4 linked regions of the Homo sapiens genome follow. The protein of the gene in region 4 interacts with the protein of the main gene of each other region in a biochemical or structural test. Each region holds a gene or a part of one and is shown on either strand. Other genes may lie near its edges.

The links.
Region 1: the proteins of SIRT3 (region 4) and HSPD1 form a complex in vitro, tested with the Homo sapiens proteins (one study listed by BioGRID).
Region 2: the proteins of SIRT3 (region 4) and PDP1 form a complex in vitro, tested with the Homo sapiens proteins (one study listed by BioGRID).
Region 3: the proteins of SIRT3 (region 4) and SKP2 form a complex in vitro, tested with the Homo sapiens proteins (one study listed by BioGRID).

Annotation. Positions count from the first base shown.
Region 1 is NC_000002.12:197,489,838-197,496,868, forward strand, and holds part of HSPD1 (60 kDa heat shock protein, mitochondrial), read right to left. Parts: intron 5,540-7,031; coding exon 5,457-5,539; intron 4,916-5,456; coding exon 4,820-4,915; intron 4,414-4,819; coding exon 4,320-4,413; intron 3,656-4,319; coding exon 3,487-3,655; intron 460-3,486; coding exon 360-459; intron 1-359. UniProt on the Homo sapiens protein: Chaperonin implicated in mitochondrial protein import and macromolecular assembly. Together with Hsp10, facilitates the correct folding of imported proteins.
Region 2 is NC_000008.11:93,912,338-93,919,924, forward strand, and holds the start of PDP1 (pyruvate dehyrogenase phosphatase catalytic subunit 1), read left to right. Parts: upstream 1-4,585; 5' UTR 4,586-4,742; exon of another isoform or gene 4,743-4,881; intron 4,882-4,998; exon of another isoform or gene 4,999-5,246; coding exon of another isoform or gene 5,247-5,329; intron 5,330-5,573; coding exon of another isoform or gene 5,574-5,608; intron 5,609-6,758; exon of another isoform or gene 6,759-6,796; coding exon of another isoform or gene 6,797-6,806; intron 6,807-7,587. UniProt on the Homo sapiens protein: Mitochondrial enzyme that catalyzes the dephosphorylation and concomitant reactivation of the alpha subunit of the E1 component of the pyruvate dehydrogenase complex (PDC), thereby stimulating the conversion of pyruvate into acetyl-CoA.
Region 3 is NC_000005.10:36,155,083-36,162,113, reverse strand, and holds part of SKP2 (S-phase kinase-associated protein 2), read right to left. Parts: intron 1-7,031. UniProt on the Homo sapiens protein: Substrate recognition component of a SCF (SKP1-CUL1-F-box protein) E3 ubiquitin-protein ligase complex which mediates the ubiquitination and subsequent proteasomal degradation of target proteins involved in cell cycle progression, signal transduction and transcription.
Region 4 is NC_000011.10:214,510-219,353, reverse strand, and holds the end of SIRT3 (NAD-dependent protein deacetylase sirtuin-3, mitochondrial), read left to right. Parts: exon of another isoform or gene 1-312; coding exon 313-522; coding exon of another isoform or gene 523-576; intron 577-2,635; coding exon 2,636-2,656; 3' UTR 2,657-4,324; downstream 4,325-4,844.

The sequences.
Region 1 (7,031 bases), on a different chromosome or scaffold from region 4:
GATCAAGACACCCTGTCTCAAAAAAAAAAAGAAACCCCACAGATTTAAGTCAATAAGAATAGTCAATATAGATCAAGTCAAGAATAGTCAAGACAGATCAAGACACTGTCTCCAAAAAAAACAAAAAAAAGGAAACCCCCTTATTCAGTCAATAAGATTTAGTCAATATAGAATAGTCAGTAAGCTCATTCTTAGGCCAGACTTGTGGCAAATTAACGGGAATTTAATCCAACCCCTACCTTCCAAAGAGCCAAAAGAAACAGATAGTTGTAGTATCTAATTGTGAAATGTTAAACTATCTATAAATTCCAGACAAGTATAAACATTCAGCAAACCATTATCACATTTATTTTACTTACTGCACCACCAGTAGCAATAGCCATATCTTTAAGCTGGTTCTTTCTATTGTCACCAAACCCTGGAGCCTTGACTGCCACAACCTGAAGACCAACCTTTAGCCTGTTAAGAATAGTTGATAGTAAGATTTAAATGAAATAAAAATGCCTATCTGTTTAATTCCCCTCAAGCTGTTACTAGATTACTTAGGACTCCCTAAGTAATCTGGTTTGGTTTTTGTGTTTTTTTGTTTTTTTTTTGCTTCCTAGCAATTTTTGATCAAATTAAGACAGGAAGTATCTGAGACAGTTTAGGCTATTTTCTATTAATTATACTTGTCCATATCCGTTTACCTTCTTAATAAACTGTTGGCCTGGCCGGGCGTGGTGACTCAGGCCTGTAATCCCGGCACTTTGCAAGGCCCAGGCAGGTGGATCACGAGGTCAGGAGTTCGAGACCAGCCTGGCCAAGATGGTGAAACCCTGTCTCTACTGAAAATAACAAAAATCAGCCAAATGTGGTAGCAGGCACCTGTAATCCCCACTACTCAGGAGGCCGAGCAGCAAAAATCACATCACAGTAAGTTATAGGATACAGTGATAACTATTATGAATGGTAGAAAAACAGTAATTACTAAATATTACATTTGAGGGTCATTTAATAAACATCTCCATATATTAATGCTGAGTTTTGAATGAGCAATGTTCTGAATTCACTTCTTTTATAAATGTTATACAAAAAGCTGACAGTATTGTTAAGCTCACCTGAAATTTTTACCAGGTAAATGAATACTTGGAATGTGTAATCAAATGTCCATTTGAGAGCAGATTGTGAAACAGAAGCAACGTTCAAACTTCAAGACAGCTGGTCTATTTTATTAAGGACCCAAATAAAAATCAGAGGAATAAGCTATATGCTATGTAAACTGGATATCCCACTTTTCAACTAGCAGTAAAATGGCTTAATGAAAACTCTGTAGGCTTGTTTTTTTCTGGCCTCAAGTCTTTTTTTTGTGTGTTTTTTTTTTTTTTTGAGACAGAGTCTTGCTCTGTCGCCCAGGCTGGAGTGCAGTGGCGAGATCTCGGCTCACTGCAACCTCCGCCTCCTGGGTTTACGCCATTCTCCTGCCTCAGCCCGCCACCACGCCCAGCTAATTTTTTGTATTTTTAGTAGAGACGGGGTTTCACCGTATTAGCCAGGATGGTCTCCATCTCCTGACCTCATGATCCACCCGCCTCGGCTTCCCAAACTGCTGGGATTACAGGCATGAGTCACCACGCCCAGCCAAGTCTTTTCTTAATCCCTCCAAAAAAGCAAATCCAAGCTAAGAAAAACATTCCAGGGTAAGGCAGCTCATTAGAGCTTTTGGGTCAGATGAGCACGTGTAATGTCTAAAACGTACCTGTTAATGTATGCATTTCTACTATAACAAAATGGAAAGAAAAGTCTTGCTTCTGACATACTTCAATTCTGAGATAAGGAAGAACAAACATTTTAATAATGCCCTTAGATTGTCTGCAGCATGAACATTACCTGTCTTAAAGTTTAAACTAATAGTAAACTATAGCTTAAAATGTAGATTTAAATAAGTGACTAGACCTCACCTTATTTTAGATTGGGTGCTATTTTCTCTACTTCAGACTATTTAGTAAACATTTAACAACAGACTAAATACTTGATCACAGCCAAGGGTAGTGGCTCATGCCTGTAATCCCAGCACTTTGGGAGGCTGAGGTGGGAGAATCACTTAAGATTCACCAACAGTTTAAGACTAGCCTAGGCAACATATTGAGGCAACATATTGAGACCTCGTCTCTACAAAAAAATTAAAAGATCAGCCAAGTGTGCTTGTGCAAGTGTGTAGTCCCAGCTACTTGGGAGGCTGAGGCAGGAGGATTGCTTGACCCCAAGAGTTCAAGGCTGCAGTGAGCTATGATCGTGCCGCCGCAGGCCAGCCTGGGTGACAGAGTCTGTCTCTCAAAATAAATAAAAATATTCGATGGTGAAATACACTTACATCTGAGTTATTTATTTAGAGACAGAGTCTCGCTTTGTTGCCCAGGCTGGGGTGCAGCAGCACAATCTCGGATCACTGCAACTTCCGCCTCCCAGATTCAAGTGATTCTCCTGCCTCAGCCTCTGAGTAGCTGGGATTACAGGCACACGCCACCATGCTCTGCTAATTTTTATATTTTTAGTAGAGACGGGGTTTCACTATGTTGGCCAGGCTGGTCTGGAACTCCTGATCTCAGGTGATCCACCCGCCTGTGCCTCCCCAAGTGCTGGGATTATAGCTGTGAGCCACCATGCCTGGCTCTGAGTTATTTGGAAGTTAGTTGTTTACTTCCCTGTTCTATGCAAAATAATATTCTGAAAATTTACATATTTTTAACCAGAAAAACCTTAAAAAAACAAAACAAAACAAAACAAAAAACAAGATTGACACTTGAACCCCGGAGGCTTGAGCTGAGATTGAGCCACTGCACTACTGCACTCCAGCCTGGGTGACAGAGACTCTGTCTCCAAAAATAAAAATAAAAAATAAAAAAATTACAAGGCCGGGCGCAGTGGCTCACACCTGTAATCCCAGCACTTTGGGAGGCTGAGGCGGGCGGATCACGAGGTCAGGAGTTTGAGACCAGCCTGGCCAATATGGTGAAACCCTGTCTCTACTAAAAATACAAAAATTAGTCAGGTGTGGTGGCACGCACCTGTAGTCCCAGCTGCTTGGGAGGCTGAGGCAGAACTGTTTGAACCTAGGAGATGGAGATTGCAGTGAGCCAAGATTATGCCACTGCACTCCAGCCTGGGCCAGGGAGTGAGACTCTGTCTCAAAAAAAAAAAATACAAGATTCAGTCATGTGCCTTCAAAACAACTGTAAACACTTGCAAAATACAGAAAGGTACCCATGTGCTAAATTAGTCTATTCTATGAGAAAGCTGATCAAAATAGTAAAGACTTTGGGGTTCCTTCAAAAACACAACCATAAGGATACATTAGAGCACACCTGATTTACACAATTACAATTCTAGATACAAACCCAACTGGATCAAATGTGGAGGTACACATGATGGAAACTGCAAACAGCAATACAAATAATTCTGTCTTTCACCGAGAAATATAAATCAACAAATACCACTGCTTATTACCTATTCAAGACGAGTGTACTTAGAGCTTCTCCATCAACATCTTCAGCGATTATGACCAAAGGCTTACGGTGAGCATTGGCAATTTCAAGAGCAGGTACAATGGACTGGATACTAGAAATTTTCTTTTCACTCAACAGAACATAGGCATCCTGGAATTCACATTTCTGACCTGTAAAAATAATGAAGATTTCAAAAATATACAAAAAATGACTGCAATACATTTAAATGAAAAGCGAAACCAAGGTTCCAATACACTTTAAAATTCACCAGTGAGTTGGTTTTCCTCCTTCATTTCTCATATGCATTAACTTTTGGAATATATACATTTATTTTTTAGAGGATGACACCAACTAATACCTATAGTTTGACACATATTAGAAAGTATATTTTAAAAACTTCAGGAGGCCAAAGCAGGCAGATGACTTGAGGCCAGGAATTCAAAACCAGCCTGGCCAACATGGCTAAACCTTGTCTCTATTAAAAAATTCAAAAATTGGCCAGGCACAGAGCCTCATACCTATAATCCCAGCACTTTGGGAGGCCAAGGTGGGTGGATCACCTGAGGTCAGGAGTTAAGAGACCAGCCTGGCCAACATGGTGAAACCCCATCTCTACTAAAAATACAAAAATCAGCCTGGCATGGTGGCGTGTGACTGTAATCCCAGCTACTTGGGAGACTGAGGCAAGAGAATCACTTGAACCCGGAAGGCGGAGGTTGCAGTGAGCAACGCGCCACCACATCATGCCACTGCACTCCAGCCGGGGCAACAGAGAATGAGACTCTGTCTAAAATAATAAAAATAATAATAATTCAGTTATTGATTTGTTCTTACCTTTTGATGTATTAATAAAGTATGGAGAAATATAGCCTCGATCAAACTTCATGCCTTCAATAATTTCTAATTCATCATTCAGTGTTTTTCCATCCTATGAAAAGTCAAAGAATTAGGTATATGGATTTCATTGAACACAAAACATGGAATTACAGGCCAGATTAATAAAAACAGACCCCTCTGGCCATAAGAGATGCAGGGTAGAGTATGAAACAGCCCAGGACATCCAATTACACTTCTGCAAAAAATCCCAAAAGTGCTTATTTGAATAATCATTTAAGTTAGGATGGATTCATTTCATGCAGCAAAGGCTAATTCACATAAAACACAGTAAGTACTTTATTCTATACATGTGCTGAGACTACATATGAAGGAATAAAAAAAGCAGTTTTTAAAACAGAATTTTTCTGTTTGAAAAATTCAGTTTTGATCATCAGATAACTCAAACTTTTGATCATAAGATAACTCAAAATTATCTTTAAAAATACAAACACACTTGCCTTTACTGTGATGACACCCTTTCTTCCAACTTTTTTCATTGCATCAGAGATGATATTGCCAATTTCTTTGTCTCCGTTTGCAGAAATCGTAGCAACCTGAAATAATCCAGTTACTCTTCGAAATTAAAAGGTAAGCCTAGTGTCCTCAGTCAGTTCCCTTACCTTTTCCTAGTAACTTCCAAATTGATACTTCCATCCAGGGGAGAGAAGGGGAATTTACGTTATGGTAGTTTTCATGAAGTACTGGTTCTTTGCTCTTTTCCGATTCATTATTTGACTACATTGTTTTGAAGAATATGATACATAAAACTATTCTTGTAACAAAAAGTTTAAAAATGCTGACTTCATTACAAACTGACAAAACTTATGCACCTTTGACAATGGCTAAGAACATTTTCACAATCATATGAATCCATTTTACAGCCATGTAGAACTAAAATGACAACCACATGTAGAACTAAATGACAACCATTATGGTCATAATTCTTTTCAAAGGTTTTAGCAGTAAGAAACAATGATTCTAATATTGATGATTGGGTAGTATTGTTATTCTGACATTGGTGTGATCAAGGGAAAAAAAAAATCACACATGCCATTAAATTTTTTTTAAAAAACGTGTAACATGTTAAGTCCTTACCTGTGCAATTTCTTCAGGGGTGGTCACAGGTTTAGACTGCTTTTTAAGTTCAGCAATTACAGCATCAACAGCTAACATCACACCTAGTTCAACGATATATGTCATTACAATGTTTATTTCTCTCATGGCTTCTATGTCAAGTAGAAATCTTGAGATTTGTGACAAATATTTTAATGCCTTAACTTAAAAAAAAAAATTTTTTTTTTTTTTGAGACAGGGTCTTGTTCTGCTGCCCAGGCTAGAGTGCAGTAGCACAGATCATGGCTCACTGCAGCCCTGACATCCTGGGCTCAAGGGAGTAGCTGAGACCACAGGCTCAAGCCACCATGCTCAGCTTCTTTTATTTTTGTAGACAAGGTCTCACTATGTTGCCCAAGGTGGTCTTGAACTCCTGGGCTCAAGCAATCCTCCCACCTCAGCTTCCCATGTAGCTGGGACTACAGGCATGTACCTATGCTTGGTCTTTAGTGCCTTAATATTAAATTTACACACAGCTTCTGAGACAGTGCTTCTTAATAACACAGAGTTGCGTGGCATGTACTTAAACAGTAACTTTAGGTTCACACAGTAAATAAAATCTCACAATGCCAAAATTTTGAAAATAGGACTAAAACAAGGTAGATGTGTGTAGTTTCAAAAGTCTCACCACTGAACTCATCCTATGCAAATTCCTAACCCAATCATGCTGTTTCCAATAGGGTCCACGACACTTCTCATGTCCATTAGATGATGCAAAAAAGGACCAAAATGGCTAACACTCCCTTATTTTCAACAAGAAGTACAGTTCTTAAATGATAGGAATCTGTTGTGACTATGCCTCTGCAGGTGTCAATTATCTGAAATCCCCTCAATTTAGTACGTATTATGAACTAACAAAATATTTTTGTTTTACATCAGTCTTAATAGTCCCATTTTGCTCAATTGGGAATAGTGCTAGCTCTCTTGTTTGAGAACTGTTACTTCAAAAAAAATCCAATGCAAGGTGCTGGTAAGTCCTCTTCATAACCTTAATTAATACTTGTTAGTGATTTACAGTAAAACTGCTTTTAGTGAAGTATATTCACTTGGCCCATAAACACTGAAATAGATGAGGTAATGATACATTAGTAATGTAGTAATAAATTAGTATGCCAATTCTGACAAAAAATTACCAATAGCTCCCCCCACCTTCACTTACAAGAGGGTTCCTGGTTTGAACCCTAACATACCCTAGATATACATAGCAATTCTGCTGATAGGAAAACCAAGTCTTAGCACACAGCTAATAAATGACAAACATGGGACTAGAATTTAAGTCTATACTGCCATGAACCTCATGAGGAGGAGCAAATTGTTAATTAAGTTGCACTCTAGTTACAAGCACTAACAAAACACAAACCAATAACATGGTGTGTGCTATTAAGAAAAAATAAACTGAGGAAAACATTACTTTCTGACATTCTGAATGATCCAGTGTATTTAGTCTTACTTTCTACAAAACTAAACTAAAAATTAGCCAGGAATGGTGGTGAGTGCCTGTAGTAGTCCCAGCTACTTGGAGGCTGAGGCAGGAGGATTGCTTGAGCCCAGGAGTTC
Region 2 (7,587 bases), on a different chromosome or scaffold from region 4:
GCTTGGGGACTCCTACTGAAGTCTGTAGATTGGCAGGACCTGCTTCGGGGCAGCCATGACTGGCACCTATTGTAGGAAGTGCTCTAGACACACCCCAATGTCTCAGTTCCCCGGAAGCCTGTCCTCCACCTCATACCCTCTGTGCTTTGGGGAATCCACCTACAGAATTATACTGAATAAAAAATTAATCTTGCCAAATTGCCTGATGGCCAGATACTAACACCAACACCTACCTCCCCTTTCATCTCTCCCCTCTTGCCCATACATGTCACCTTTAGTATTTGAAGATAGCCTAACTAACAGGAATTTTTGAAGTATGTGCCAATCTCAGGTCCACAGGTATGCAATACTCTTGGTAAAGCACTTGAATTCTATCATTACGCAACCCCAGACACCTACTTTTTGTATTCTCTGTCATGTTCAATTAGTACACAGAAACTTACTGCCTGCCAGCCAAGAGCCTTTGGTCTCTCATTTTGTAAGAGAATAAAGCTTTTCCCCCCTTGAACATTCTATTGTCTCATGAATTCTGATGAGAATGGATTCCTTTCCAAATATAAAATCAGACAAATGTGAAAGCATCTAGAACAGTCTCTGGTCCAAAGGAGATGAACCACAGTACGTGTTGTTTCTTTTGTATAGATGATTCGTCAATCTCACTGCTAACTCCAAACAACTTAATTTCAAAGAAGGAACTCCCGACACTGACATGGTAATAAAACAGGTAGCCATTCTTTAGTTACTTGGCAATTTCTTGCTGATTTCCTAGCCAAGACCTGTAGGGAAACAGGTGCTAGAGGAGTATGGTAAACCAGCCTCTTTCCCCTGTGACTGCTGATTTTGGCAAAGGCCACAGTAAATCAGTAACCATCAGGGTGAGGGCATCTCAGACCCACATGCAGGTTTATTTTAAGCTTCTTGGCTGGCACCACTGAGACTGCTGGATCATCTCCATGTTGTCAAAGCTAACCTCCAATACCCCTAAGGGTCTTATCACCTGCCCCCAAGAACATCAGGCCAATCTGATCAAGCATTGCTCATTTTCAAATCCATCCTAGGGCAAATGGATGACTAAATGTTAAGGTTCATATTCAGGAAATGTCATTGCATTTTTGTTTATCACAGAAAGCATTTGTGTAAACAGGTGATTTTGCACATTGCTTTCTTAGTACCATACTATTTTTGAAGCCCCTTCCTCTCTCCTTCCCTACCTTCTCGACAACGTTCCTGGGTTGTTTCAGTGCTGCTTTCCAACACTTTCCAATGTTGAAGTATCAACAAGTGCTCTGGTGGCTAAAACAGTCTGGGGTCAACGCAGTAAACCCAAGGACCTGTTCTGGCCCTGGCCAGTTGGCCATGTGATAACAAACAGCACTTTTGAAGCAAGCCCAGTGGGTGGCTAAATGGAGCTCCATCTAGAAACAGGAACAAAGCCAGGCCAGAGGAGAATCAAGGTTGAGATACTAAAGAATCTCCTCCAGTTGTACCAGCAGTTGGTACCTCTGCAGAAGGGTAGTTTATTTATAATATACCTCTCACTGAACCATACAACTTTACAACCAGAGGACAAAACTTATACCTGTAAATGAGATTATTTCAAAGCTATCACTTTAGGAAGGCTTTATTCTGATTTCAAAAACACCTTGGCATTCAATACTTATGTCAAAATTCTTTTGACTATATTTAGTGGTGGCAAATACCAGTTTTTTTGAGAGTGGGTGTTATTTTTAGAAATATCCAGGTCATTCAGAACTAAGAAGAATAAGATGGGAATCAATACTATTCTGGTATAAAACCAAAGTGTTGGTTATAGTAAAACAAGTTGGAGTTTCCTGTGCAGATCTGAAAACAATTTGAAAAGGGAGTTTTAAAAGTGCTCTGAATAATGGCAATGTCAGTGTGGAATAAGGGTTGCTACTAAGGTAACAGCTTTGAAGAGGTCATTTGATATGGATGTTGGACTCTGTTTTTTTTTTGGAGATGGAGTCTCACTCTGTTGCCCAGGCTGGAGTGCAGTGCTGCAATCTCAGCTCACTGCAACCTCCACCTCCCAGATTCAAGCAATTCTCCTGCCTCAGCCTCCCAAGTAGCTGGGATTACAGATGCCTACCACCACACCCGGCTAATTTTTTGTATTTTTAGTAGAGATAGGGTTTCACCATGTTGGCCAGGCTGGTCTCAAACTCCTGTCCTCAAGCAATCCACCTGTCTTGGCCTCCCAAAGTGCTGGGATTACAGGTGTGAGCCACCGCACCTGGCCTGGATGTTGGATTCTTACTACTCTATTTCACAACCATTAAAAAAAAAAGCTTTTTGTTTTTTTTGAGACGGGAACTTGCTTACTCGCCTAGGCTGGAGTGCAGTGATGCATCACTGCTTACAGCAGCCTCAGCTTCCTGGGATCAGGCAAGCCTCCTGAGTAGCAGAGACTATAGGCAGGCGCCACCACACCCAGCTAATTGCTTTTTAGATTCTTTGTAGAGATGAGGTCTATGTTGCTCAGGCTGGTCTCTGGGCTCAAGCAATTCTTCCGCCCCGGCCTCCCAAAGTGCTGGGATTACAGGCAGGAGCCCACCAAGCCTGGCCAGGAAAAAGTTGATAAGACAACAGAGAAGTCTAGTATGTACTTCATTTCTGGGTCATAAAGCAGAAACTCTTAAAATTCCACTCACAGCTTCAGTTAAGTGGGTCTCTATGTCCACAAAGTAAGGGTTAAGAGGCAGAGATCCTCTATATAAATGAATTTAAACTGATATTCTAAGGTTCAAAGATTCTCCATTCTATTAATAACTTATTAGTACCTAACAATAGAATATAATGCACTTGGGGGCCTGGGTCTCCTACTTGCTAGGAGTTCTTAATCTAAAACACTGACCTGGACATGTCGATAATATCAAGAATAGCTAACACTTATATAACACTACATGCTATGTACTTTCTTAGCAAGCTATATATGTCAACTCTCTTAATACAGCCCTGCTATTACTTTTTACATTTTTATCTTATATGTGAGAGAATGAGGCATGCAGAGTTGCCCATGACCACACAGAAAGCTGCAGAGCTGGGAATGGAACCCAGCCAGCTTGGCTCCAGCTGCACTCTTAATCACTAGGCTACACCATCCTATGCATCTATGAAGAAGAAACCAGATACTTAAATTAAATGACAGGAAGAGTAGTGGAGAATATTTGCAATTTATGGGAAGCCCATTTGAGAAGCAAAAAGGAGAGGATGAAGGGAGGCAGATGGACCTGTAAAAACTGGGATGAAGGCCAGACAGACTAGCCACAAAAGTTCCATGGGTAACCTGGGGATGGGCAAAAACAGTCTCCTCTAGTTTATTTAGAGAACAGAGAATACAGCAACTTGAAAGATCCAGGAGTTATAAAGGACCAGTTTGGGTATATAACGTTTTTTATTACATAAAAAGAAATTCACTCCACATCATTTTGTGAACCTGACTGGCTAGTAAGAAGTTATGTGTAATAAATCAAAGTCAACTTATTGGTGAACACTAGGGAAGATAAGTGCAATGCTCTATCTGCCACTGCCAAGGAAGCTTTCAGAAGCCACTATCCCATAAAAGGGATGTATGGATGTAAGTCACTGAAGAGCCCTCGAAGATATCTTGTTTTACCACAGACAATACCAATGCCACCTTAAGTCTAATCTCATCTGAGGTGGAAACAATCTCATGGAACAGAAATGGGACTTAGAGCAGGGAATGACTTGGATGAAAGTTTTCTGACTCCAAGTCCAGTGTTCTCTCCTTGTAACCATTCAGGGCAACGGAAACAATACTGATTTCAAAACTCCTCAGAGAACGTGAGCACACATCTACGCTACAGAGATAATTCCCTCATCACAACTCCCTCTTGCTGCTGTCTACACCTGCTTCCTCTCCCTGGGGCGATAGAAAACATGATGGGCGTTAATGCTCCTAAAATCTGCAACGTATCAAACGAACGAAGCAACAGCTACTCTCGAGGTTCTTTGCTACGCCTTGTACCGCAGGCTGGGGTGAGCCGCAGGGAGTTGAGGTTCCCGTGAGGCTGGGAGCCGCTCCCGCAGCCTACCCTGGGAAGCCCGCACCCAACCGCGAGGCGCAGGGGAGGCTTGGCCGCTGGGCCGGCCACCCACACCACCGCATCCCCGCAGAGGTGCCAGAGATTCTAGGAAGCCTGCACGACAGGGGAGCAGCCCGTTCCTCGGGCCCCATGCACGCGAAGACATTGGAGCCGGCCCAGGCGCCTCCCCTCTCCCGACCCCGCAGCCTGCTCAGCCAACACCGCCGAGCTCCACAGACCACCGCTCCCTAGCGCCGCGCAGCCACACCTTCCACTCGCTGGGGGCGGGGGGGGGGGGGTCACGTGAGGCGGGCCCGGGGAACCAATGGGCGGCTCGCGCCGAATGGAAGGGATTGTCTGACCCCCGTGACGTCACAAAGCTGGCGGGGAGCGCGCTCCTCTTCCGCCCCCGCCCCACCCCCGGCCGCAGCCCTCTCCGCCTCCCCTCCCACTCGTCACTGCGCAGCCAATCGGCAGGCGGGAAGCACTCCGGCCCGAACGTGCGGGCGGGGCAGGGTGGCGGCCCCGCACGGTAGGGGAGCAGAGTGGGCAGGCCGGGGGTGAGGGCTCGCGCTCCGGGAGCTGCACGGGGCTGCGTGGAAAGAGCGCCGAGCGGTGGCGTCGTTGTCGCCCCCTCCTCGTCGGGAAGAATCGTTTGGTCTCCTGCCGTGCCCGGTTCGTATTCCCTACTCCCTGCCACGAGCCGCCCCGTCCGGGATCCTCCACCCGTCCAAAGTTGTGAGGGGGCGCCGGGCGTGCTCGCGGATCGGCGGCCGCGGGCGTGCGGAGGGCTGGACGAGCCCTGGAGCGCCAGGTGCGCGCCGGGCGTCCGGGCTGTGGGGCGGGCGTGGCGGCGCTGGGGGCCGTCGGGGGGCTGGGGGCGGGGGCGGGGGCGCCGTGCAGCCCTAGCGTCTTCCGGCCCCTGCGCTCCAGCTGTCAGCACGAAGGGCGCCGCGGGGCCGGCGGCAGAGTGAGCTCCAGGGAGGCTGTAGGGCTGCGGCACTGCCTGAGGGTCTCCCTGACGCACCCCGGGTCAGGGCTGGCCCCGCTGGCAGCCTGACACCGGCCGGCCCCTGTTCGTCTGGACTGAAACGGGCACCCCTGGGGCGGGGCCGGGCCGGGCAGGGCGGGGCGGGCAGCGGGCGGGGCTGCAGTCCATGGGCTTCGCGCCCCGGCTGGATGGAGGGGCTGGCCCTCGGGGCGCACCCCTGCTCGCGCCTGGGCCCCGCTGCCTTGGGCTGTGGCTTTGCCTCCCCGGCGGGGTGGGTTGGTTTGGTTGGCTTCCTTGTTCTCTCCACCCCTTTATCCCTCCTCCATCCTCTTCCCCCCCACCTCCCAGCCCATTCACCGGGCTGGAGCGAGACCTCGCCCCTCCTCCGCTCCCGCCTCCCCGCCGCCGCCTCCTCTAATGAGCATCTCTGCCTTGCTTTCAATGGGCCGGTGCTGCTGTCGCTGCTGCTGCCCGCGCGGGTTGTGGATGTTGTCGGCTCCGTGTTGTGATGACAGGAGAATGTGTGTGTGTCCCGGGCCCAGACGAATTGGTAGGTATTCACTTAACTACCTGCGTTGGGTACCCAGGAAGGATGGTGACAGATTTTTGTGTATGGATGGTTTTAGATGAATCAGCGTGGTATTAAGGGATGAGATAGATTGGAAAAAGGGACAAACGCGTCTTGGATTGAGATAGCTTTGATGTCTTTGTGAGTGCAGTTTTTCAGGTAGCGACAAAGGAAACTAATCAAAAAAATACTGGCGTGTGGTGCTTCGTATCTTTCTTCATTTATGTAAAAAGATAGCAGGAGCTGTGAAATGGCTAGGCATTTCCAGAAAAATGTTGAAAAATCGCGGATGGTCTTTATGTAGAGTGTTTAATGCAATCGGATTACATAAACTGGGGTTCCGACACATTAAATGATTAGCATAGCTTTTCTTTTTCATTTACATCAGAAGCTTTGCAAAGCTAAAGGGCTCTGGAGTCGGTGCCTTAATAGCATTTGCTAATTAATTTGGTCCGTGGGTCTATTGATGGAGTGGAAAAAATGTCTTGGCACAGGCTCTGCTAAGCACATCAGTAAGAATGGACGGCTCTCTTTCCTGTTTCTGGTTGCAGTGCATCTTTCTTTATTAGTCATTGGCAAAATCAGCCCAATCTGCCTGGGATGAAGATGCTACATACAACGTGGCTGAGTCTAGATCATGGAATAGGAAATTTTCCGTGAAAATTGTGATCAAGAATAACTTGCAAATTTGACACTGCTCTGTTTTACCAACAGTTGTACCTGGATGCTGTTCTTATTGCCTGATCAAGAGCCTTCTACACTAATTTAACAAGCTTGTCAGCAAAAGTTATGATGTAGAGTGTTTTCTTGTTGTTGAATCAGTGGATAATCTGAAGGATATTAAGAGTTTTTCATTGCTTACTTATTTATGAAAGCATTTGAAAGTACTTTGACTCCCAAGGGTATCTGATCTGATGGAGAGAATGTATCACTTGTACCGATGCGGATAGAACGCTCATTAATTACAGCACAGTTTTCATAAATTCCAACTTCCCTAGGAATTTTGTCTTTTGAAGGCATGTTGGAAGTTGGGGCATTAGGATATAATCTCAGTCCATGTACTAAGCCTCTGCATAACTGAAAGATAGAGTCAATAAAATTCACTCTCTCATTTTTTGTTTTTAATCTCAAGAATTTTTGCCTTGAAGGAAAAATGTAGTGGAGAATTTGATGTTTGAACGTAAGTATTGTTAAAAGCACCTGCTGTGTCAATCATTGCTTTTTGTCACTAGATTTCATTCATTTTGCAGTCAATTACAAAAGTAGAAAAGATGTCATACCAAGCCGGGTGCAGTGGCTCATGCCTGTAATCCCAGCACTTTGGGAGGCTGAGGCGGGTGGATGGCCTGAGGTCAGGAGTTCGAGACCAACCTGACCAACATGGTGAAACCCCATCTCTACTGAAAATACAGAATTAGCCGGGCAGGAGAATCGCTTGAACCAGGGAGGCGGAGGTTGCGATGAGCTGAGATCACGCCATTGCACTTCAGCCTGGGCAACAAGAGCAAAATTCCTCCCCCCGCTGCCCTCCCTCCCCCCCCCCGGCAAAAAAATGTCGAAGCAAAGGAATTTAAGGAAAGTGCAGGTTTCCAGGACTTGTTATTCCTTAATTAAACAATCAAACCCTGTTATGCATCTATCAACCCTCCCTCCCCCCCACACAAATAGTATTTTGAGTCAGTTTACGTTCCATACAGGCACATTTTCATTGTTTTTTTCTGTAAGATTCTTAAGTTTTAAAGAAAGAGCAAATGCAGTCATAAAATTATGAAGAAAAATTCATTAAGATTACATTAGTTTACATTTTTAATGATAGAAAACCTTTATTCAAAGCACAAAATGAGTTGATATGCTTTCTGCACGCAAACCTAAAAAGAGATATGGTTTAAGTATGGAAGCCACTGTCATGTGGCCCAACATTTGAGCACATCTTCTGGCTCAGTCATGTACACTTAACCTCT
Region 3 (7,031 bases), on a different chromosome or scaffold from region 4:
AAGGATCACTCTGGCTGCTGTGTTTAGAACAGAAAGGTGGATGCAGGAAGCGCAGTTTTCTTTCATAGAAGCAATCTCTAAATAACTATTCAACAAGTATGAAACTCTTACATATGAATACATAGAATAATCCCACAAGCTCAGGATAATGTAACAATTGCCAAGAAGGAAATAAATGCACAATGAAGGAATCCTAAAAAACAGTCAGATGAGTTCAATGATTGCCTTCCTAGGCTTTCCACCTCTGATGGATCTTCTACACCAATTCTGGTGATATTCTCTCCTCCTACTCCCATTTAAAGGTGCCAGTCTTTACTGAGCATGTCCTTTGTACCAGGCCCTGTATAAGTGGGTTTGAGGACACAAGGGAGAAAAACACCGAGGAGTGTGACAAACACCTGCTGCCCTGGGCAGTCTTTCTAAACCAGCATGTCTTTCCCCCAGTTAGAATCCTTCAGTGGTACACCCCAGGTATTTAGGCTAAAGTCCACAATGCTTAGTACAAAGTTAAACGCTTTCAGCCAGGTCTCAACTAGTTTTCCTAGGTTTGTTATCTAGAAATGTGTTCCAGCCATTTGGAGCTACCTGTAATTCTTAGAATGAGTCATTCTGTGCCGTATCTCAATGCTTTTGCACATCCTGTGCTTGCCTCCAACTACTATTCATTTAAAATCAAATGGAAGCCCCAGTTCCCACAGAAGGCCTCCCGTGACATCAACAAGGACAGGCCACTTATGTACCATAATTTCATTATTTACTTACTCATCTCTCTAGACCCCCAGGAGCTCTTGAGAAACAAAAACGCTTTTTTTTTTTTTTTTAACAATTTTTGTATTTTCAGGAACTAGCATAAAATTGATACATTCATCCACTCCCATATTTATAAAATATGTACTATACACTGAGGTCTATTCTAGGTTTTAAGGACACAATGATAAATAAGGCACAATCCTGACCCTTATTCTGCTCAGAGTTTGAGAGATATAGACAAACAGGAAACTTCAATAACCTATCCTGATGGGCTACAGTAGGATTCGGGGTGCTGTGCAGCTTATGGGAATGGCGCAGGGGTTAGGGAAGCCTTTCTGGAGGAAGTGGCCTCTCTTGAAGAATGAGTAGGAGATACACAGTTGTTCAATGAATGCCTGTTCCCCTAGCCTCACGCCCTTCAGGGGACAAAATTAAAGGACTGACTGAGGCCCTGAAAGCTAGGGGTAGAAAGCTGAAGGCAGATCACCCCTGCTGATCTGGGGAGGCAGCTGGAGGTTGTGAGGAGGCTCCTCGACGTGGCAGCTGTTCCATCACTGCCACAAAGTTCCTCCAAAGTCAACATGGGCAGGGGACAAAGGTTCTCAAACCAGGCTCTTGCCCTGCTCCCCAAATTGAAAACAAAGTTGAATGACAGGCTTTTCTCAAGTTTTTCTCCCATTAATCCAACTCTCTCAGACCTCTGCTGCCTCTTACATATCTAGATCAGAATCTAGTAATTGATTGGGCATAACTATATTTAGCTATAAGTATAGTCATCCACTCACGTATTTATTAACCATGTACTATATACACTGAGGTCTGTTCTAGGTTTTGGGCCACAACAATAAGTAAGGTACAATCCTGACCCTTATTCTACTCTGAGTTTGAGAGATACAGACAAACAATTAAACAGGAAATTTCAATAAACTATCCTGATGGGCTACAGCAGGATTCAGGGTGCTGTGCAGCACATGGGAATGGTGCAGAGGTTAAGGAAGCCTTCCTGGAGGAAGTGGCCTCTATGGAAGAGTAAGCTTAACTATACTTCAATAACATACTTAGCTATTTTGAATCTAATATGTTGAGATTTTACTATAATCTGTAAAAATCATACTGACACCATACGCTGGGCCTCCTCAACACATTTGAGGACTACTGGACTGAGAAAGCAGCACAGTTTCTATCAGAATCCTGGCTGTGTTGCCCCAAGTCTGTGAACTTGGGCAAGTTACTTAATCTTTCTGGCCTCAGTTTCTTTACCTGCAGGAAAGGAAATTGACAGATTTATCTTGCAAAATTGTTCAGTGAAGAGTAAATGAGGTACAAGAAAAGATTAAATAATGCAGCAGGGAGTAAAACTTTCTTTTCTATATTCCTCTCCTTTCCCAGTTAAGTCTGGGTATTTTCTTCATGCAATGACCTTTTCAGTGCTGCTCTGAATTTTCACCCATGGGCAGACACTGGACAAGGTCTGCATGGTATGACTTACCAAAACCCCGTATCTGCCCTTTATTTAAGTTTGGGTCCCCCAGAAGCAGATTCTGAAGCTCTGACTTCAAGTAGTTTATTTGGGAAGTGATGCCAGGAAGCACTAGAAAGAGTGGAGAAGACAGAGGTGGAAGGGAAGAAAGCCAACCTGGAGTAGGCTAATAGGCAGGTTATCCCTATGGGCAATTGGGGTTCAAATCTTCTGGGGACTCCAGTAAACCATCTAGAAACTACCCCAGAGCTGTCTCAACCAAGGGCACGAGTGCTGGGGTATTAATCCATCAATTGCTGTTGGTCACTATTTGGGGACTCCCCAGTATTCCTGCCCAGAGAAAGCCCTCAGGCATGGAATCTCATCTACACGTAGGCAAAAGCTTTGGCATGTAAGGGAATGGGGGGCTTCAAGGGGCTATAGATAGGGCACCAACAGAAATTATGGCTGGGGAAAGGAAATTAGAAAAGCTTGCTATGAAGTACAGGGCAGGAGAAATAAATTAACAAACTTGGTGCTTTCTATTAGGAAGACATAAGAAATCAGGACCAATTAAAAGAGCAGTAGCAGCCAGGTAATTAAAGTGCTAGAGGAAAATCTGGCATAGTGATGAATGCAGAGGTCAGTAGACCTAACCAATGAAGACTGCATGTGAGACTCCAAAGTCTGGAGGACTTTGTGTTGCAACTTCCATCTTTGCCTTCCCAACTCCTCCAGATTTCAGCTTAAATGGCACCTGCTCAAAGAAGCATTCCCACCCAGGATACCACCACAGGCCCCATGCCCAGATTTGCACATCCATTACCTAACAATGCCTGGCACATAACAGGACTCTATAAATATTTGCCAAATGTATTTATTAGCCCTCTTCATTCAAATGGTGAATGTGCTAATTCTTTATTAGTGTGAATGGCTAACCCTTATTAACCAATTAACGACTATGTGCACAGCACTGTTGGCATATGGAGGGGATGAGGCTGAAGACAAAAACCCAGAGCAGAAGGGAATGTCCTCTATCAGTATAGCTGTAGTCTCTGGGAGATGGGGGCTGGGGCTTCAAGAAAACATGCAACTATGATAAAAGAGACAAGGTCACACAATCAGTAAGTGGCAGAGGGGGAATTTAAACTCAGGTCTGATTTCAAATCATGCCCTTTCCATCCTAGTGGGTTCTAATATTCTATGCTCTCCTCTGTTGTAAGTACAAATTTTGAAAAGGTGAGAATTAAACCCGGACTTGCTATGGAAACAGAAATCAATCAGGGCTAGGGAGTGAGTGGAGGAGGAGAGAGAAAATAAAACAAAGATGCTATCAATGGGTTCACCACCAAATGGAAGGAGCAAGGTCCTAGAAAACACACATACTCAGCTAGCAGCCAAGTACCCAGTGCTCTTACTCAGCTGACCACAGAATGACACTAATCCTAGGGGCCCCGGGTGGGGGTACCACAGCCTGATATGGGCTGCTGTCCCAGCAGATGGGGCAGAAGTTTGTCTTTAATAGCTGCTCTAGCAATAGGCATCCAGGCTGTGATATGCTTAATCTAATTTTCCTTGCCATATTTAATTCTCAAAACATTAGCCATCTGTTTCCTGAATTCATGATGAAACTGCTGCCTGGTCTGTTTGCAGAGAGCGGAAGGAAAAATCCAGAGGTCTTTTCTCCACTTGTCTCTGCTAAATCCAGCAAGGCTGTAGCTGCATACCAGACCCACATTAAAAGACATAATTACTGAGCCCAAGGTCTCCAGTCTTCAATGACATGGACGGCAGTTAAATATACTTCAGGGCCAGGAAAGGGCAAAAACTGGGCCAAACCAGCAAACCTACTACAATCACCCTCACCTACCACTGTTTCCAATTATTTCTCAGGTGCAAACCCAGTTTCCCACTTCTGTAACCTTATCACATCTCATGCTTCCTGAAATTCTCTGGGAAGAGGGCCTTGTTGGAGAGTTTTCTATGCATTCCATCTTTGCAGTGTAGGTAACTCATCTTACTTGACATATTTATTTCTCAGAATATCACTCCACTCATTTATTTCTCAGAACATCACTCCACTCCACTCAGATTCAAGCTGAAAATCCAAAGTAATGCTAATCATAATCAAACTTTTGACTTAAAAAATTGCTGCTCTTTAAGCATAATCAGATTATACTTGCAGAAATGTATACTGAGGACCTGGTACTCATACTTGTTTTTGTGTGTGTGTGCATTTCTTTCAGGGAGTTGGGGGGTGCTCACCTCAGAATTGCTTTTGCTGGCTTGTTTTAAGTAGCAATACCCCATGCTTTCTTTCTGGGGAACTACAAACAGATTGTGCCATCCCAGATGAGTTCTCCTTCCTCTTCCCACAAACCATAAATAATACATTTGAGGCCATGTTGGCTTTGGGTGTTTTTGTTTTTTTGGCTAAGGTGGGCAAAACTGAAAAAAACAAAACACAGCCAAACTTAACAAGGATTCCCCCATGTACCCCTTCAGTCCCACAACCCTTTATTTCTATGAAAGACTTGCTCAACCCTGAGGTGTAGGGGGTGTAATGAAGAAACAACAGAAGCTGGGATTTGGAAAAAATATGGAACAGTGTATAAGCACTATGAGGGCAGGGTCTCTTGCCTGTTATGTTCAGTATTGTAGTCCCAACCTCTAAAACGGTGCTTGAGAAATATTTGCTTAATGGATGAATGAAAGGAAGCTATGGAACAAAGAAAGATGACTGGGAAGATCCCATAAAGGCTCTTCCAGTGCTGAGTTTAGTAACTGTAGACTGAGACTCACATAGATCATGAAATCAATTTAGTGGGTTTGACTAGCATATATGTACATATAAAGAATGAACTAGAACAGAATAGAAAATATCTTAGTAAGGGGAAATACAGTTTTGTAAAACTGCTGTTTCAGATACATACCCAGGATTGCAATGTAAAATATGTTTCTTACTGGTTAAAAAAAAAAAGTTGGAAAAAATGCTTGCCTAAGGGTATTAAGACACAGATTCCCAGGCTCACTCAGGCCAGGACTCCCCGGATCAGAATCTCAGGAATTTTACACTTTGAACAAGTTCCTGTGGGGATTCTGATATACAGTAAATTTTAGTATCTCCAGTCTGACAACCACTTTAGGGTCTGGAATTTCAAGCATTTAAGAGTCATGGAAGAGCTGATCAACAAATTAGTTCACCTCCATTTTCATGGCTATCACCTGTTTAAAGGGTGGGGTGGGGGACAAGCATTTCATGACCATAAATAAAATGCAATTGTCCCCTTTCCGCCTGTTACTGACCTCATTGCTGGGCCATTTCCTCCCCAACTCTTTCCATACACTCACTCCAAGGGCCAATCAGACCTGTTCTAGTACAGGTTGGCCACAGAGCTTTCATCTTCCCAGATAAACGGATGAAGAGGATTTAGTTGCCAGATGTACGGCTGGACTGGGGCCTGCAGGGAGAAACTGCTTAGCAAAGAACCAACAAAAACTTGCAGCCCAGAACCAGTCATCAGATATCTATGTACAGCAGGTGTGGCCTGTTCTACCCTAATCCTGGCAAAGCTAGTAGCCACCTGTCCTGACAACTGCAGACAAAACTCCTTGGAATGACAATCCGGCTCCACTGGAGGCCCAGGCTTCCAAAGGCCCATTGGGAATCCTCTATACCAGCTGTCCCTCATCCTGCATCACTGATTTCACCCTTCCCCACTCCACACCAATTAAGCAATCTCTGTTGTAAGTCCACGTACATTGGTTTCCCTCTGTGCCTCTCCTTAGGTAATAAACATAAAAGTCACCATTCTTTCTCTCTCCCTTCAGATATATACTTTTGAAGTCAGCTTTAACCATCAAGACACTGATTACACCATTTTCAGAGCCCTCTCTTTCCTCAGAATCTCCTTTCTTGCTGAGTGGAAGGAGGAAGATCTTCCACATCCACCTGAATGGGAATCACAGCTCTTATTTTTTATTGTATTTTCTCCTCAACTTGACTTGCAAATTCCTGGGAAATAGCAAAGACTCCGGAAACTTCTGTCTTGTTCCCACAGTGCCTTGCTTAAAAAAAATTCTTTTTCACTTGTGGAAGGGCATATAGCAATCACACTCTATGTCAAAAGCTATCGGCACTGGACAGGTTAATAAAAATCTGTTCATCTTAGCAGGAAGTATCTTTCGCCATATTTGGTTGGTCAAGCACCAGATTGTTAGGGCTACATTCCAGACACAAAGAAGAGCGGTGAACATTAAATTTTGAAGAAAAAAAATTTTATACTAACAGGGTCAGAGTAACAATATTAAAAACAAAAGATAAAAGTCCACTAGCCTCCAAAATTGGTGTCAGGAATTTTGTTGGCTTATGTATTGTTACGTGTCAGTGGCATGCTAAGGGTTTTACGTCATTCTCATTTAATCTTCACGACGACCTGTGAAGTGGGTATTATTACAGCACTCCATTTCACAGATAAAGGAACTAAGGCAAAGAAAGCTCGAATAACTTTCCAAGGCTGATAAACGCAAGAATGAGGATTCAAACCCAGATCTGACTTCACTACAACCCTCTACTGCTTTTCTAACTAATCCAATTCCTGATGTATATTCCCAGACCATAAATTGGGCAAAGTTCTCTTTCCTAAAGAAAAGGCTGAAAACAAACGTATTTATTTTCTTAATTAAAAGTGGAATGCATCTCGAATCCGCATGTCTTCCTGCGCAGGGGCCATGCTAATCTTCTCTGTATTTCCAGTTTCAGTATATGTGCTGCCAAAGCGAGCAACCAACCAATCAACTAAACAACCAATCTATCAACCCT
Region 4 (4,844 bases):
ACGTGCTCACAAAGAGGAGGCAGGAAGGTTGGATCCCTGATGAGCCTTGGAACGGAGGTGGGGAAAAGCAAGGATGTGTGGAAACAGCAAGAAGTGGGAGAGAGAGAGAGAGGCGGAGGGGAGAAAACCGTCACGGAGGCCAAGCGGCAGGAGCTCAGCTGAAGAAATGAGATTGGTGGTGGGTTTTCCCTATATCGCAGGCTCTGACTGCCAATCTGCTGCTCCTCCAAGGCCTCGGTGGCTGTGGCATGAAACATCCTGAGGAGCTTGTAAAGTGGACACTGTGCCCCTCACGTTTGGCCCATTTTTCAGGTGGAGCCTTTTGCCAGCTTGACCGAGGCCGTGCGGAGCTCAGTTCCCCGACTGCTCATCAACCGGGACTTGGTGGGGCCCTTGGCTTGGCATCCTCGCAGCAGGGACGTGGCCCAGCTGGGGGACGTGGTTCACGGCGTGGAAAGCCTAGTGGAGCTTCTGGGCTGGACAGAAGAGATGCGGGACCTTGTGCAGCGGGAAACTGGGAAGGTACAGACTGCTGAGGAGGACCATCCAAGGGGCTGCCCTTCTCACTGCTCTAGGGTATGGTCCACCTGATATGGAGCCCCGTTGGTTAACACAGTAACAGTAATAGCTGATGATGCTGTGAATCCTGCACCAGGCACTACCTGGACCTGACTGGGTGTTACTTTCAATACCTCCATTTAGAGATGAGGAAACAGATGCTAACAGGCCAAGCAGGGACACGGTCCAGACACTCAGGGCTGATGAGTCTGTATTCTTAACAGACTATAGGCGTTACCTTCACTCCCTAAAATAAAGCAGCCAACAGTGTCCCTCTAAGGCCTGGTATGTGATTCTAAGATGATACGGGTTAAAGAACTTTGAGAAGCTAAAGTTCTCTGCATCTATGTGGGATGAAGGCTACATGAGTGATGCTTTTCGGAAGTAATTGGTATGAGAGCCATTGATCAATTATAATCCGCTGAGGAAAGCCAAAGAGCCTTGATGCTTTCTAAGAGATTTCAAACCGCCTATAAACAAGTGAAGTTACAGAAAATGCAGTTTCCCATAAGAATCATGTAGCATGTGTAGCCTTGATATTAAGGGTTTTCAATGGGAGGTGGTAGCATTAAGCATTTAAAGTCCAGTGTCATGATTACAGGCAGGTGTAACACTGTCCAAAGGGGATTTCACCAGTGTATTAGTCTGTTCTCTGGCTGCTCATAAAGGCATACCTGAGACTGGGTAATTTATAAAGGAAAGAGGTTTAATGGACTCACAGTTCCATATGGCTGTGGGGGCCTCACAATCATAGTGGAAGGCAAAGCAGGAGCAAAGTACTGTCTTACAAGGTGGCAGGCAAGAGGACGTGTGCGGGGGAACTGCCCTTTATAAAACTATCAGATCTTGTGAGACTTATTCACTATCAGAAGAAGAGTGTGGGAAAGACCCGCCCCCATGATTCAGTTACTTCCACTTGGCCCCACCCTTGACACATGGGGATGATTACAATTCAAGGTGAGATTTGGGTGGGGACACAGCCAAACCATATCAACTACAATATATCACAGTTGATGCTCCTCTTGCCTTCCAAGGCAGATGTCTTAGGAAATCCTGATCCTTTTTCCTTGTCCACAGCTGTGGCTGCCTCATGGCTCAGGGCCATGGGGTCAGCACTCTCCTCACCTCCACCAGTCCAAGACCTCCAACCTCTGGTTGCAGGCTGATTTTTTACCAATCATGGTCACTTCATTATGGAGGCAGGGAACCCAGCTAACAATGAGGCTTAAACGCTGAGAGGCGAGTGCCTCCTGGCCAGCTCACAAGGCAGCGGAGATCTTAGATCAGCCCAGCAGGCTTTTTTGAGGGATCCTTTTCCTGCTCCAACTTCATATTTTCTTTTTTTTGTAATGGAGTTTCACTCTTGTTGCCCAAGCTGGAGTGCAATGGCACGATTTTGGCTCACTGCAGCCCTGCCTCCTGGGTTCAAGTGATTCTCCTGCCTCAGCCTCCTGAGCAGCTGGGATTACAGGCATGTGCCACCATGCCTGGCTAATTTCTGTACTTTTATTAGAGATGGGATTTCATCATGTTAGTCAGGCTGGTCTCAAACTCCTGACCTCGGGTGATCCACCTGCCTCAGCCTCCCAAAGTGCTGGGATTATAGGCATGAGCCAGCAGGCCCGGCCCAACTTCCTGTTTTCATAGAAAAGCAGATTGTAACTCTGGTAGCTCCTGTGGAGTTTTGGAAGTGGCTTAATAGGATTTGAACTGTATAATCTAGTTTCAGAGAAATGTATGTAAAATGGGTTATGATTTCATTTTCTGTTTTTTACAGCATTACTATCCAAGGGGTTACTTTTCCAAATAGTGAATGCTTTTAAGCACATGAGCATCAGTACATATTGATTTGGGTACTTTAAGACCCATAGAATGAGGCTCTCCATTTAGCCACCCTGTTCTGCCCAGGCCTGCTGGGATCCTCTTAGCCCAGCACAGCAGCAGCAGTATTTGCAGAAAGCAGCTTGTTTTGTGAAATATTTTGCATGTCTGCAGCTAGAGCTGTTTGAACAGAGATCTGCTGGCCTGCCTGGGTGTGTAAACAGATAGCTGATACCCTCTGTCTTCTGTATTCCAGCTTGATGGACCAGACAAATAGGATGATGGCTGCCCCCACACAATAAATGGTAACATAGGAGACATCCACATCCCAATTCTGACAAGACCTCATGCCTGAAGACAGCTTGGGCAGGTGAAACCAGAATATGTGAACTGAGTGGACACCCGAGGCTGCCACTGGAATGTCTTCTCAGGCCATGAGCTGCAGTGACTGGTAGGGCTGTGTTTACAGTCAGGGCCACCCCGTCACATATACAAAGGAGCTGCCTGCCTGTTTGCTGTGTTGAACTCTTCACTCTGCTGAAGCTCCTAATGGAAAAAGCTTTCTTCTGACTGTGACCCTCTTGAACTGAATCAGACCAACTGGAATCCCAGACCGAGTCTGCTTTCTGTGCCTAGTTGAACGGCAAGCTCGGCATCTGTTGGTTACAAGATCCAGACTTGGGCCGAGCGGTCCCCAGCCCTCTTCATGTTCCGAAGTGTAGTCTTGAGGCCCTGGTGCCGCACTTCTAGCATGTTGGTCTCCTTTAGTGGGGCTATTTTTAATGAGAGAAAATCTGTTCTTTCCAGCATGAAATACATTTAGTCTCCTCAAAGGGACTGCAGGTGTTGACATGAGTTGGAAAGGGAACCCTGGGATACGTGGCGTCCCCTCTATTGGAACAGTCTGAGGACTGAAGGCATTTGTCCCTGGATTTATTGGAGACGGCCCAGCTCCTCCCTCTGAAGGTGGTCACATTCTGTTGACTCTCCATACTCAGCCTCTCCTCCAGAAACAGATCTGTTCCAGAACATTCCAGCACTTTCTATCTGGCCTCCTTGTCCCCACACTACGCCCCCCCACCCTCGCCAGGGCTTCCTCTAGTGACACTGTTAGAGCTAATCTCTGAGACAGGGAAGGCATTACTCACTTAAAACCCAGGCTGAGTCCTGGCCACCTGCTGGATTGTGACATAGGAGGTGGAATCCACTGAACTGCTACTTCTGCACAGGCTCCTTCTCCTGGGGCTGTACCCAGGCCCAGCCCTGATGGCTCACCCTGTCAGGCACCAGCTGCTCCCTCCTGGGCTCTCACCCACCTGCACATCCTCCTTCCTAGCATCACATTACCTGCGTGTTTCCCCAGACAAAAGCACTTCCCATTCTTGAACCTTGCCTACCCTGGGCTGAGCTGACGGCAATAGATTTAATGACAGTGACTCCCAGGAAGGGGGTCCTGTGACTTTGCGCCTTAATAAGAACAAAAGGTGGAATTGGTGACCTAGGAAAACTGTTGAATTCTAAAAAGAATGAAGTTAGTTTCTAACCCTAGTTAATGTTCCTTTTTTATTTTTTGAGTCTTGCCCTGTCACTCAGGGTGGAGTGCGGTGTTATGATCTCAGCTCACTGCAACTTCCGCCTCCCGGGTTTAAGCGATTCTCCTGGGTAGCTGGGATTACAGGTGTGTCCCACCACACCTAGCACATGGGCATATTTGTAATAGAGACAAGGTTTTGCTATGTTGGCCAGGCTGGTCTCGAACTCCTGGCTTCAAGTGATCCACCCACCTCGGCCTCCCAAAGTGCTGGGATTACAGGCATGAGCCACTGTGCCTGGCCCCTTTATTTGATAATTTACACATACATTTTTGTCCAAAACTCTTCTTTATTTCAAGATGATGTTTCTGTGGCTATGTGTGGTATGTGGTATAAATCTCAATCTATGGTCACACGAGGGGCATTTTCCTTGTTGTAAGTGTAGTCTAAACCAGTAGGAAGGAGGTTTAATTGCCAAAACCAGCGAGAACTCGGGCACTGTGGATACTACAGTGGGCAGCTGAACGAGGACCAAGGAGAATGTCTAAGAGGCCTCCAGCCCTGCGCTCAGTGAAGACAGGACAGGAACAACAGAGCATACATACCTTGGAAGGGTGTGTTCTGATATACTCGTATGGAAAGTTCTGACAGGTTTTCTCCCTGGGAAGTGCAGCACATACCCCAACACACTGGCTCTGCCAGTGTGCCAATCCCAGATGGTGCTTGCTTTGTGTGCACCCACACCCAAACCCCTGCCCTCCCATATGCTCTTCTGTGTGCCCAGGTAGGCCCTGCCCTCAGGCAGCAGCTTCTGAACACATTCCTCTTGGCGCAGACAAAAGAAAGTACTTCGTCTGTGGAATTCGAGGCTGAGCCTGAGTTCTAGCACAAGAAGACCGTTGCAGTCCAGAGATGAGAAACTGGACCAGAGGC